Linked DNA regions of Homo sapiens. The protein of the gene in region 1 purifies or fractionates together with the protein of each later gene. This does not show direct contact. Each region holds a gene or a part of one and is shown in the gene's direction. Other genes may lie near its edges. The genes, in order: SLC44A2, GALNT2 and PON2.

Evidence for each region.
Region 2: the proteins of SLC44A2 (region 1) and GALNT2 purify together in Homo sapiens (affinity purification with mass spectrometry; one large-scale study listed by BioGRID and IntAct). This does not show direct contact.
Region 3: the proteins of SLC44A2 (region 1) and PON2 purify together in Homo sapiens (affinity purification with mass spectrometry; one large-scale study listed by BioGRID and IntAct). This does not show direct contact.

What each region holds. Positions count from the first base shown.
Region 1 is NC_000019.10:10,632,012-10,635,662, forward strand, and holds part of SLC44A2 (choline transporter-like protein 2), read left to right. Parts: intron 1-32; coding exon 33-145; intron 146-2,744; coding exon 2,745-2,876; intron 2,877-2,962; coding exon 2,963-3,062; intron 3,063-3,151; coding exon 3,152-3,244; intron 3,245-3,419; coding exon 3,420-3,504; intron 3,505-3,651.
Region 2 is NC_000001.11:230,245,101-230,248,751, forward strand, and holds part of GALNT2 (polypeptide N-acetylgalactosaminyltransferase 2 precursor), read left to right. Parts: intron 1-962; coding exon 963-1,050; intron 1,051-3,651. UniProt on the Homo sapiens protein: Catalyzes the initial reaction in O-linked oligosaccharide biosynthesis, the transfer of an N-acetyl-D-galactosamine residue to a serine or threonine residue on the protein receptor.
Region 3 is NC_000007.14:95,421,437-95,425,087, reverse strand, and holds part of PON2 (serum paraoxonase/arylesterase 2), read left to right. Parts: intron 1-502; coding exon 503-573; intron 574-1,399; exon of another isoform or gene 1,400-3,651. UniProt on the Homo sapiens protein: Capable of hydrolyzing lactones and a number of aromatic carboxylic acid esters. Has antioxidant activity. Is not associated with high density lipoprotein.

The sequences.
Region 1 (3,651 bases):
GAGTCTGTTCATGACCGTTTTCTTTTCCCCAGAGGCCTGGTCATTGCCATGGCGATGAGCCTCCTGTTCATCATCCTGCTTCGCTTCCTGGCTGGTATTATGGTCTGGGTGATGATCATCATGGTGATTCTGGTGCTGGGCTACGGTGCGTCACCCCCTCCCTGTGGCTTCTCTTTCCTGAATCCGCACACTGCCCTGCCCTTTCCCGTGGAAATGGCCCATCAGGAAAACAAAAAAAAGTCAGGCCGGGCGTGGTGGCTCACGCCTGTAATCCCAGCACTTTGGGAGGCCGAGGCAGGCAGATCACCCGAGGTCAGGAGTTCAAGACCAGCCTGACCAACATGGAGAAACCCCGTCTCTACTAAAAATACAAAATCAGCCGGGCATGGAGGTGCATGCCTGTAATCCCAGCTACTCAGGAGGCTGAGGCAGGAGAATCGCTTGAACCTGGGAGGCGGAGGTTGTGGTGAGCCGAAATCACGCCATTGCACTCCAGCCTGGGCAACAAGAGCGAAACTCCATCTCAAAAAAAAAAAAAAAAGAAAAAATGTCTCAGCACCGTAGTTAAGGATGCATACTCTGGTATCAGAATAGCAGAGGTTCAAATCCTGGCTTTGCCAATTCTTTGGGCAAGTGCCTCAACCTAACTGTGCTTCAATTTCTTTCTTTTTTTTTTTTGAGACGGAGTTCTGTTCTTGTCACCCAGGCTGGAGTGCCATGGCGCGATCTTGGCTCACTGCAACCTCCGCCTCCTGGGTCCAAGCTATTCTCCTGCCTCAGCCTCCCAAGTAGCTGGGATTACAGGCATGCACCTCCATGCCCGGCTGATTTCGTATTTTTAGTAGAGATGGGGTTTCTCCATGTTGGTCAGGCTGGTCTCGACCTCCTGGCCTCAGGAGATCTGCCCGCTTCAGCCTCCCAAAGTGCTAGGATTACAGGCAGGAGCCACCGCGCCCGGACTGCTTCAATTTATTTCTCTATAAAATGAGGGTAATTCATATTTCTAGTTGGCAAACTAAATGACAAGGAGGTAATGAGCAGATAAAATATGGGTAGGGGCCTGTTTAGTTCAGGCCTGTGGAATCCAGAGGCACAATATCGTGCTCAACAAAACAGTGCTTCATATTTTGGATTTTTGTTGTTTTTGAGTTGTTGTTTTGTTGTTGTTGTTGAGACGGAGTCTTGCTTTGTCACCCAGGCTGGCGTGCAGTGGTGCAGTCTCGGCTCACTGCAATCTCTGCCTCCCGGGTTCAAGCAATTTTCCTACCTCGCCTCCCGAGTATCTGGGATTACAGGCGCACACCACCATGCCCGGCTAATTTTTTTTGTATTTTTAGTAGAGATGGGGTTTTACCATATTGGCCAGGCTGGTCTCGACTTCCTCGTGATCTGCCTGCCTCGACCTCCCAAAGTGCTGGGATTACAGACGTGAGCCACCGCGCCCAGCCTTGATTTGTTTTTTGAGACAGAGTCTCACTCTGTCACCCAGGCTGGAGTTCAGTGGCACAATCACAGCTCACTGCAGCCTTGACCTCCTGGGCTCAAGTGATCCTCCCGTCTTGGCCTCCCAAGTAGCTGAAACCACAGGCAAGCACCATCATGCCTGGCTAAATTTTTAATATTTTTGTAGAGACAGGTTCTCCCTATGTGGCCCAGGCTAGTCTTGAACTCCTGAGCTTGAGCAGTCCTCCCGCCTTGGCCTCCCTAAGTGTTGGGATTACAGGCGCAAGCCACTGTGCCTGGCCCATATTTTGATTATTCCTTGAACTTTCCTGGAAGAAAAATGCTTGGCAATCCAATTTGAGGACACTCATAGTAAAATATTCATATTAATAGTGGTTTCTAGCTGGGTGCGGTGGCGCACGCCTGTAATCCCAGCAATTTGGGAGACAGAGGTGGGCGGATCACCTGAGGTTGGGAGTTCGAGACCAGCCTGACCAACATGTAGAAACCCCATCTCTATTTTTTTTTTTTTTTGAGACAGAGTCTCTCACTGTCGCCCAGGCTGGAGTGCAGTGGCGCGATCTCAGCTCACTGCAACCTCCGCCTCCCGGGTTCAAGCAATTCTCCTACCTCAGTCTCCTGAGTAGCTGAGATTACTGGCGCCCACCACCACGCCCAGCTAATTTTTTTTTTTTTTTTTTTTTTTTGTATTTTTAGTAGACACGGGGTTTCACCATGTTGGTCAGGCTGGTCTCGAACTCCTGACCTCGTGATCCACCCGTCTTGGCCTCCCAAAGTGCTGGGATTACAGGCGTGAGCCACCGCGCCCGGCCAACCCCATCTCTATTAAAAATACAAAATTAGCCGGGCATGGTGGCGCATGCCTGTAATCCCAGCTGCTCGGGAAGCTGAGGCAGGAGAATCGCTTGAACCCGTGAAGTGGAGGTTGCGGTGAGCCGAGATTGTGCCATTGAACTCCAGCCTGGGCAACAAGAGTGAAACTCCGTCTCAAAAAAAAAAAAAAAGAGAGAGAACTTAGACCATGGCAGCATATGATTATGATTCCAAGTAGGGGGAAAGGGTTCTGGAAGTTCTCTTCTGAAGGTGACACTTGAGCAGAGACCTAAGGATGTGTGGGATCCAGCCATGGGGAGAGAATGCACCGGGCGGTGGGAACTGCAAGTGTAAAGTCCCTGAGGCAGAAGCCTCGATGTTTGCTTCTGTTAAATGGGGGCAGTTGTAGCTGCTTTGCAAAGTTGCAGGAGGCACTGCTGGACTGAGCTTGTGGTTCCCCCATGCAGGAATATTTCACTGCTACATGGAGTACTCCCGACTGCGTGGTGAGGCCGGCTCTGATGTCTCTTTGGTGGACCTCGGCTTTCAGACGGATTTCCGGGTGTACCTGCACTTACGGCAGACCTGGTTGGCCTTTAGTGAGTCACAGTCTCCCATTCCTGCCCCCACATGAGGCCTTGGAGGGAGTGGGGAGCCCAGCCGGCTCAGCCTTTGCCCTTTGCAGTGATCATTCTGAGTATCCTTGAAGTCATTATCATCTTGCTGCTCATCTTTCTCCGGAAGAGAATTCTCATCGCGATTGCACTCATCAAAGAAGCCAGCAGGTGGGGGGCCAGGGTGCCAGGGGCCAGGATGGAGCTGTCCCTAGAGTTGTGTCTTTTGCCCTGACGCCTGTGTCTCTGCTCTTCCCTAGGGCTGTGGGATACGTCATGTGCTCCTTGCTCTACCCACTGGTCACCTTCTTCTTGCTGTGCCTCTGCATCGCCTACTGGGCCAGCACTGCTGTGTATCTGCCCCCAGACACTGATCTCTGACCCCAGGGATGGCTAAAGACCAACTTTGCCTAGAAGTGACCTGCAGCTTAGGGATAGGGCTGGAAACTGGTGGGAGAATGGATTCTTTCCCACAAAAGTCCCTGGGGTCCTCAGTCCTAGACCTCTGCTTCCTTAACGAACCTCCAGCTTCCTGTCCACTTCCAACGAAGCGGTCTATAAGATCTTTGATGACAGCCCCTGCCCATTTACTGCGAAAACCTGCAACCCAGAGGTGGGCGTCCCCGGGGTGGGGAGGGCAGGTATTGCCCCAGCAGGCCCCAGATGATTTGAAACCTCTCATGTCCACTTGGAGGTTCAGCAAACAATTGGCCCCTGTTGCATGTCCTGTGCTAGGTGTGGGGGAGGACGCACAGTGGGG
Region 2 (3,651 bases), on another chromosome or scaffold:
ACTCTTACCAGAATGATGGCAATGTGGCATAAAGACATGGCTCAATCTAGGGGGATTTTTTTTTTTTAATAGAATCACAGGGGCTGGACGCAGTGGCTCACGCCTGTAATCCCAGCACTTTGGGAGGCCGAGGCAGGCAGATCACCTGAGGTCAGAAGTTCAAGAATAGCCTGACCAACATGGAGAAATCCCATCTCTACTAAAAATACAAAAATTAGCTGGGCGTGGTGGTGCATATCTGTAATCCCAGCTGCTTGGGAGGCTGAGGCAGTAGAATCACTTGAACCCGCGAGGCGGCGGTTGTGGTGAGCCAAGATCACGCCATTGCACTCCAGCCTGGGCAACAAGAGTGAAACTCCGTCTCAAAAAAAAAACAAAACAAAAAAACAAAAAAGATAGAATTACAGATGAGGCAAACGTAGAATCTGGAAATCTCTGGTTGATTTGGTTAACCTTCTGCTGTGATAATATTGATACTTACCACATCTCTCTCACACACACACACTCCCACATAGAAATATATTCCTAATTTTGATGTATGAGCATTTTAGCAGTGACTCCATTCCTGAAGTTTACTGCAGCTCACAAATCACTAATGGTATTTGGGCAAACAGAAAAGGACCCTTGGGACACAGCAACACAGTTTTTGCCTTTAGCTGGGTGAACTGATGGCTACCTGTCCCATAACCATGGGTGTCTCCACTCCTAGAGTGACTCCTGCTACGCACCCACTCCTGACCTCCCTCCCTGCCTCCCAGCAGGCCACAGCACATCTGTGGATGGCCAAGAGCAAGACCTTCTGGGTCTGGGTGGGGAGGCTGGGTTCTTGAGGGCCTAGGGTAGTAGGTAGTAAGGGCCAGTTGGGTTTGCCCTGTGCCTGCCTAATACTAATGCCTTCTGTGGTTGGGCAGGTTTTTTGTTTTGCTGGGATTTTGATAACTACTCCTCTCTTTGTATTTTAGGACAGGACTCGGGTTGTGTCACCCATCATCGATGTCATTAATATGGACAACTTTCAGTATGTGGGGGCATCTGCTGACTTGAAGGGCGGTAGGTGTCTGTCATGGTGCCCCTGCCTAGCTCGTCCCGTCTACACCAGCATCTGATCACCACTCCCTCTCATTGTCAGGAGTGACAGTGACAACAGTGTTCACGCCGTAGTGTGTGTTCTGAGTAAAAACCACCTGTGTGCTTAACGAGTAGGACTTCATAAAGAGAAAAAAAAATAGGCTTGCTCCCTTAAAGAGCTTCCTGGGTTTCCCTTTCTCCTCTTCCTTGACCTTCTGTCACTTTTGCGAGCCATGTGGTTCCATGAACAGATATGGCGTCCTTTATGACCAGAGATGATGAAGCCCTCCTTGCAGGAATCTGGGGTGAGAAGCTTCACGGAGCTGAGGCTTTGTGGGATTCAAGGGGCTGGAGCCTGTCTTTGCCTTCTCTGCTCACCCTGGCTATTTCTCTGACAGCCTGGTCTCTTTCTGGTTGCTCAGATGGAGACCTGTGTCATCCTCAACCCCCTCGCCCTCACCAAGCCCACGTGTGACCCTGTTCTGCTGATACAGCCCCTTGCATGTATCATGGTTTCTTGTACCCCTCTTTCCCAGCCCAACACCTGTGCCTACATCACCCTGGTCCCCTTCCGTTGGAATGACCACACCAGTTTCCTGTATGTCCTCACCGCACCCACCCTGGAGCCCCAAGAGCACTTTGTCTGTTTACCCTCTTAAAAATTATCAAAGACCTCAAAGAGCTTTCATCTGTGTGAAGATGAACTATTCTAGATAGACACTGGGCAGAGGGTTAACTGATGGTCTAACATCAAAAAAGAAGACAGTAAAACTATAAAATAGGGCCTTGACCAGGTGCAGTGGCTCACGCTTATAATCCCAGCACTTTGGGGAGGCTAAGGTGGGAGGATTGCTTGAGCCCAGGAGTTCAAGACCAGCCTGGGCAACATAACAAGACTCTTGTCTCTATTAAAAAAAAAAAAAAAAATTAGCTGCGTGTGATGGCATGCCAGCTACTCGGGGCTAAGGTGGGAGGATCACTTGAGCCTGGGAGGTCAAGGCTGCAGTGAGCCACGATCAACCCTGGGAGACAGAGTGAGACCCTGCTTATTCATACACACACACATATGTGTGCAAGCAAGCCTTAACCCCAGAAAACAGAATACTTGGACTTTTTAGGGAGACTCAGCCACGGTCCTAGACATTGTGGGCTTTGGCCCCACCTGCCTCTTGCAGGCCCCGTCATCATGGGCAGGCCATTTTGCCTCTGCTTCTCAGCTTCCCCCTCTGGGAAATGGGATGATAATTGTGCTGGCCACACAGGGCATAATGGAATTAGACATCAGCGGGAGGGCGGGCATGCTTGGAGGACTGTACCTAGGGTGGGAAACATAACATTCAGGAACGATTCCCAGCAAATGGTGAGAAGTAAAATGTTTGGGGACATTAAAGAGGAGGGATCCTTAGATAGCTAGAAAGCCTGGCTTTCAGAATGTTGTATTTCCCCAAGTATTCGAAGAGCTGAGATCTACCAGGCTCTATTTCTCCCAAAGCAGCTGCGTATGTCAGAGCAGGGGCAAGAACAGCCAGGTGTTCCGTGTGGGGGTGCAGGTCTTCTGGGTCAGAGGAACGGGGCCACGTTCACCCTAAGAGCATTTTATGAAATTCCTTTAGAAAAAAAATCAAGGATGCCATTCTTAACAGATCTTTAATCTGCTATAGCCTCTCTCTTTGGACCAAATTAATAAAATAAATAATAAGATAATAGTAAACATCAAAAAAACAAAGGAAAGGTTATGTCAGCTAATCCTTAACCTTCTCTGTTAGTGAAACAGCCAGGACATTGTTTTTCTGGTTTTCCTTCGTGGCCTTTGAGGCACCATGATAAGAGCCAGCTCAGGGGCCCGCAGGGGTCTCCTCTCTGTGCATTTCTGTCCCCACTGCCTGGGCCCCTGTCCATTTCCCTCTCTCTTTGCCTGAGGCCACTCTATCCTGCAGTGAGGGAGCTGGGAGGCCTCTTTGTCCAGAGCCATAAATTCTTGGCCAGCCCAGGACACTCAGAAACCCTCACCCGCCATCCTTCAGTCACTGGGGCTGTCAGGGCGGACAGACTATGAATTCAAAGCATGCAGACAAATCCAAACTTAGGCATTGCAAAAGCCCTGTTGACAAAAAGCCTGATGGCAGAGAGCTTAAGAGGATTGAAAGATGCATGCCCTAGAGTCATTAGGTTTTGCTGTCAGACCCTTGGAATTGGAAATGCAGCACCATGAGCCATGTGTTTGCCAAGAAGTGGCCTCCTGATGCACCAGGACAGCTTCCGCAGGTGGAGCCTGCTGGCCTCCAAGAGGCACTATGTGTGTGACCCTGGGAGCAAGAGCGAGACCTGAGGCCCTGCAGATGCCCACAACCAAGTCCGGGTACAGGGTCTAGGCTCTTCTATCCTCAGGGGTCTGTGGATTCCAAAAATGAAATGCAACAGGTGCCAAATATATCTGAAATTGAAGCTTATTTGCCCAGCTTGGCAACTTCCGCTGGCTCATTTTCCCTTAAAGTTTTCATATTCCCAGCATGTTCCCACTCCATTCTTGCTGCAAATACAGTCTGAAGTTTGCTGGCCCAGGGAACTGACAAAGCCTCGTTC
Region 3 (3,651 bases), on another chromosome or scaffold:
CTTTTTTGTTAGTAACTATTTGTGGGATGTCTTTGGTGTGTCAGGCTCTGAGCAATGCCATTTTCTCTTGGCTTCTTTGCAGTCTCTGTGTGAGGCTTACAGTCATTTTTCACGTTTGACTCTTCAGAAGGAAGACAGGGCTACTGGTTCTACATCTGGAACTCTTTTCCCACAACACCAACACTGAGAAATGTGACATGGTGCTGTGTTTACATTTGCATAGGAACTTGCATTATAAGTTTTATTTGTTGAGTTATTGGCTTTTTTTTTTTAATAACCCACATCAGTATATAGAACTTTGCAATAGGCATTTTTGTTTTAACTTCATTTCTGGTGCAGTTTTATTTTCCTACCCTTGTCTTTCTATTTTCTCTTTCATCTGCTTTAGACTTAAACTGTGTTTTATGTATTGCTGTAAGCCTCTTTAAACCCTTTCTAAAACAAAGCAGGGAATACATAAACAAATAGTTTTTTGTTTTTTGTTTTTTTTTCTTTGTAACAGAAATCGACTTAAAGCCTCCAGAGAAGTAGAATCTGTAGACCTTCCACACTGCCACCTGATTAAAGGAATTGGTATGTATATGAAAATGCTTGTTGGGCACATTGCATTTTTTGGCCATTAACATTAAAACACTCATTAATGGCATTTTAGCATGAAATTACTGCTTTTCAGTGGATAAATCACATTAGATCAACAAAAACCTCTTTGGTCAACCTCTTGATCTGATGAACCCTGTATTTATTCTTCTTTCCTACCCTCACTGTAAATTATTCTTTTTTGTGTGTAATTCTATGTTTAGCATTTGATTTCTTGCTTGTTTTGTGACTTCTCTGAACTATTTTTGTTGCGTCTGTATTGTTTGTCAGGTATGGCCGCTGCAGTCTGTGTTCTGTGAGCCTTGTGGTCAGCTAGTGAAGGAAGCTTTATGTAGGCAGTGACAGCATTTACCCTGCTCACTACTCTATAACTAGGATCTGATCTTATGGCTAACACGTAACTGACCAATATGGTTTGGTTGTGTCCCCACCCGAATCTCATCTTGAATTGTAGTTCCCATAATCCCCACGTGTTGTGGGAGGGACCCAGTGAGAGGTCATTGAATCATGAGGTGGTTACCCTGTGCTGCTGTTCTCGTGATAGTGAGTGAGTTCTCATGAGATCTGATGGTTTTATAAGGGCTTTTCCCCCTTTTGCTCGGCACTTCTCCTTGCTGCCGCCATGTGAAGAAGGGTGTGTTTTCTTCCCCTTCCACCAAGATTGTAAGTTTCCTGAAGCCTCCCCAACCACACGGAACAGTGAGTCAATTAAACCTCTTTCCTTTATAAATTACCCGGTCTCAGGTATGTCTTTATTAGCAGCCTGAGAACGGACTGATGTACCGGCACTTCACAATATGTATTGTAAAAACTTGTTTTTATTTTATCTTCTAAGCTATGACTGCAGAGGGGGAGTCTCCCTCTTCCCTTGACTTTATGTAGGATGTATTGTGGAGTCTGAGTCTTTGAGTAGGGGTTCCTAAGAGCAAGCCCCAATTTTGCTATAGATAAGGAGGGATCTGTCCAGATTCTTCTCCAGCACTGAGGGTCTCTCTGGTGTGTTTGCAGTTTTTCTCCAAGGTAGAGTCTGTGTCTTGCTGTCTTTTACCCTTTATCATCTACTAAGTACATGTCCCTAGTACATAATAGACTAGTAGTTAGATTATCAATGAACAATAAATATTGGCTTTCCTTTTTTTTAAATTTTAATTTTTTTTTTTTTTTTTTTTGAGAGGTGGCCTCACTTTGTCACCCAGGCCAGAATGCAGTAGCGCAATCTTGGCTCACTGCAGCCCTGATATCCTGGGCTCAAGCGATCCTCCCGCCTCGTCCTCCCAGGTAGCTGAGACTACAGGCACATGCCCCCACTCATGGCTAGTTTTTTATTTTTGTAGAGACAGGGTCTTGTTATGTTGTCCAGGCTGGTCTTGAACTCCTGGCCTCAAGCAATCCTCCCAGCTTGGTCTCCCAAAGTGCTGGGATTGCAGGCATGAGGCACTGAGCCCAGCCAATATTGGCTTTCCTTAGATATGGTTCATGGTATGATTAGAAACAAAAAGAATTAGCAGTCAAAACACCTAGTTTCTAGTTCTATTCTGCCACAATGTAACCTTAGGCAAAGTTGGTTTTTGTATTTGTCACCTATAATGATGAGTTTGTGATTAGACTAATGGTTTTTAGACTTTAAAAAGCCTGGGACCATTTATTTATAATCTTACTCTGAGAGCCACAGTGTGGAAATAACTAGACTGTCATTGAGTCACTTCTAGTCCTTTACAACAACATCCTTCTCTAGAGGTAGGAGAGACAATTTAATATTTTGTTTTACTCTTTAGAAATTAAAACTCGGGTTACATGGAAATGTTCTCTTCTCTGAATAGGTAACATTGTTAAACAAGTTTTGAGTGTCCTTCCATCTTTTTCTTTTTATGAATACTCCTGTACATAATTTTTAAAAACATAAGTGAGGTCAAATTATGCATAATATTTCAAAACTAGCTTTTTGTACTTAATACTAGGTTTTGGAAACTTATGTTTGTACATAATGTTACCTTTTCTTCACAACTGCACAGTATTTTTTGTGCAAAGTTCATATAAACAGTGTATGTGCAAACAATATAGAAAGATATAAAATGGAAAGTAAATAAAAATAAAAATCTCTCATCAAACTCTTCATCACCCCCAACAGAAATAACCCCAAAGATAAAGCTCCCTTTTTTATCTTTCCTGATAGTTTCAGTGCATTTGCAAACAAATATATTGACTCTTTTTTTCACAAATAGAATTTTAGTGTAAATATTTCACAACCTTCTTCATTCCTAAAACAGTGTGAGCAGCTTTCCACATCAGCATATATAGTTACTTTGTTCTTTTTAATATTTTCACATTCCATGATTTATTTAACCATTCCCCTTTTAATGTACATTTGGGTTGTTACAGTTTTTTGCAACTATGAACAAATCAGTGAACATCATTGCTGTTGAGTTTGTGTGTCTGTAGAATATGTCCTTAACAATGGGATTGTTGTTCCCTTAGAATATGTGTTTAGAGTTTTGACAGTCATTGCTAAGTTGCTCTCAATTTGGCAACAGTAATAAACTCAGTACCTCATAGTTGTAACCACATTCACTCCAGACAGAGTTCTCAGCACTCTTTTAGTAAAAATAAACCATCAGTTGACAGTGCCACCTTCAGAGTTTCTCTACAAATACCTTGCTTGCCTCCCTTTCTTTTTTTCTTCTTTTAAATCAGCTTCCTCAGGTTGATCTGCCTCTCATTCCTTAGGCATCTGTTTCCTATGTGTTCTTTCTCCTTTTTTTCATTGATACTTTTGTATTTCCCCAGTTCTACCTCCCCTCCCCTAGACTGGTTGGCTGTCCTGGAATTTCCCTTCCTTCTTTCAATTGCCCAAACACTAAGTGGGAGGAGGCAAACTCATATCAAATAGCAGATTGACTACATCTGTGCTGGATCATGCAGACAGTTCAAGAGTCCCAAGTAACTTAGCAGCTTCATCTTGCCTTCCAGCTGCAATCAAGAAGAGCCCTCTCAGAACTGGTCACTCAGCAAAAGCCAGATGGCATTAGTAAAAGATGTTGGGCAAGGGTGGGAGTT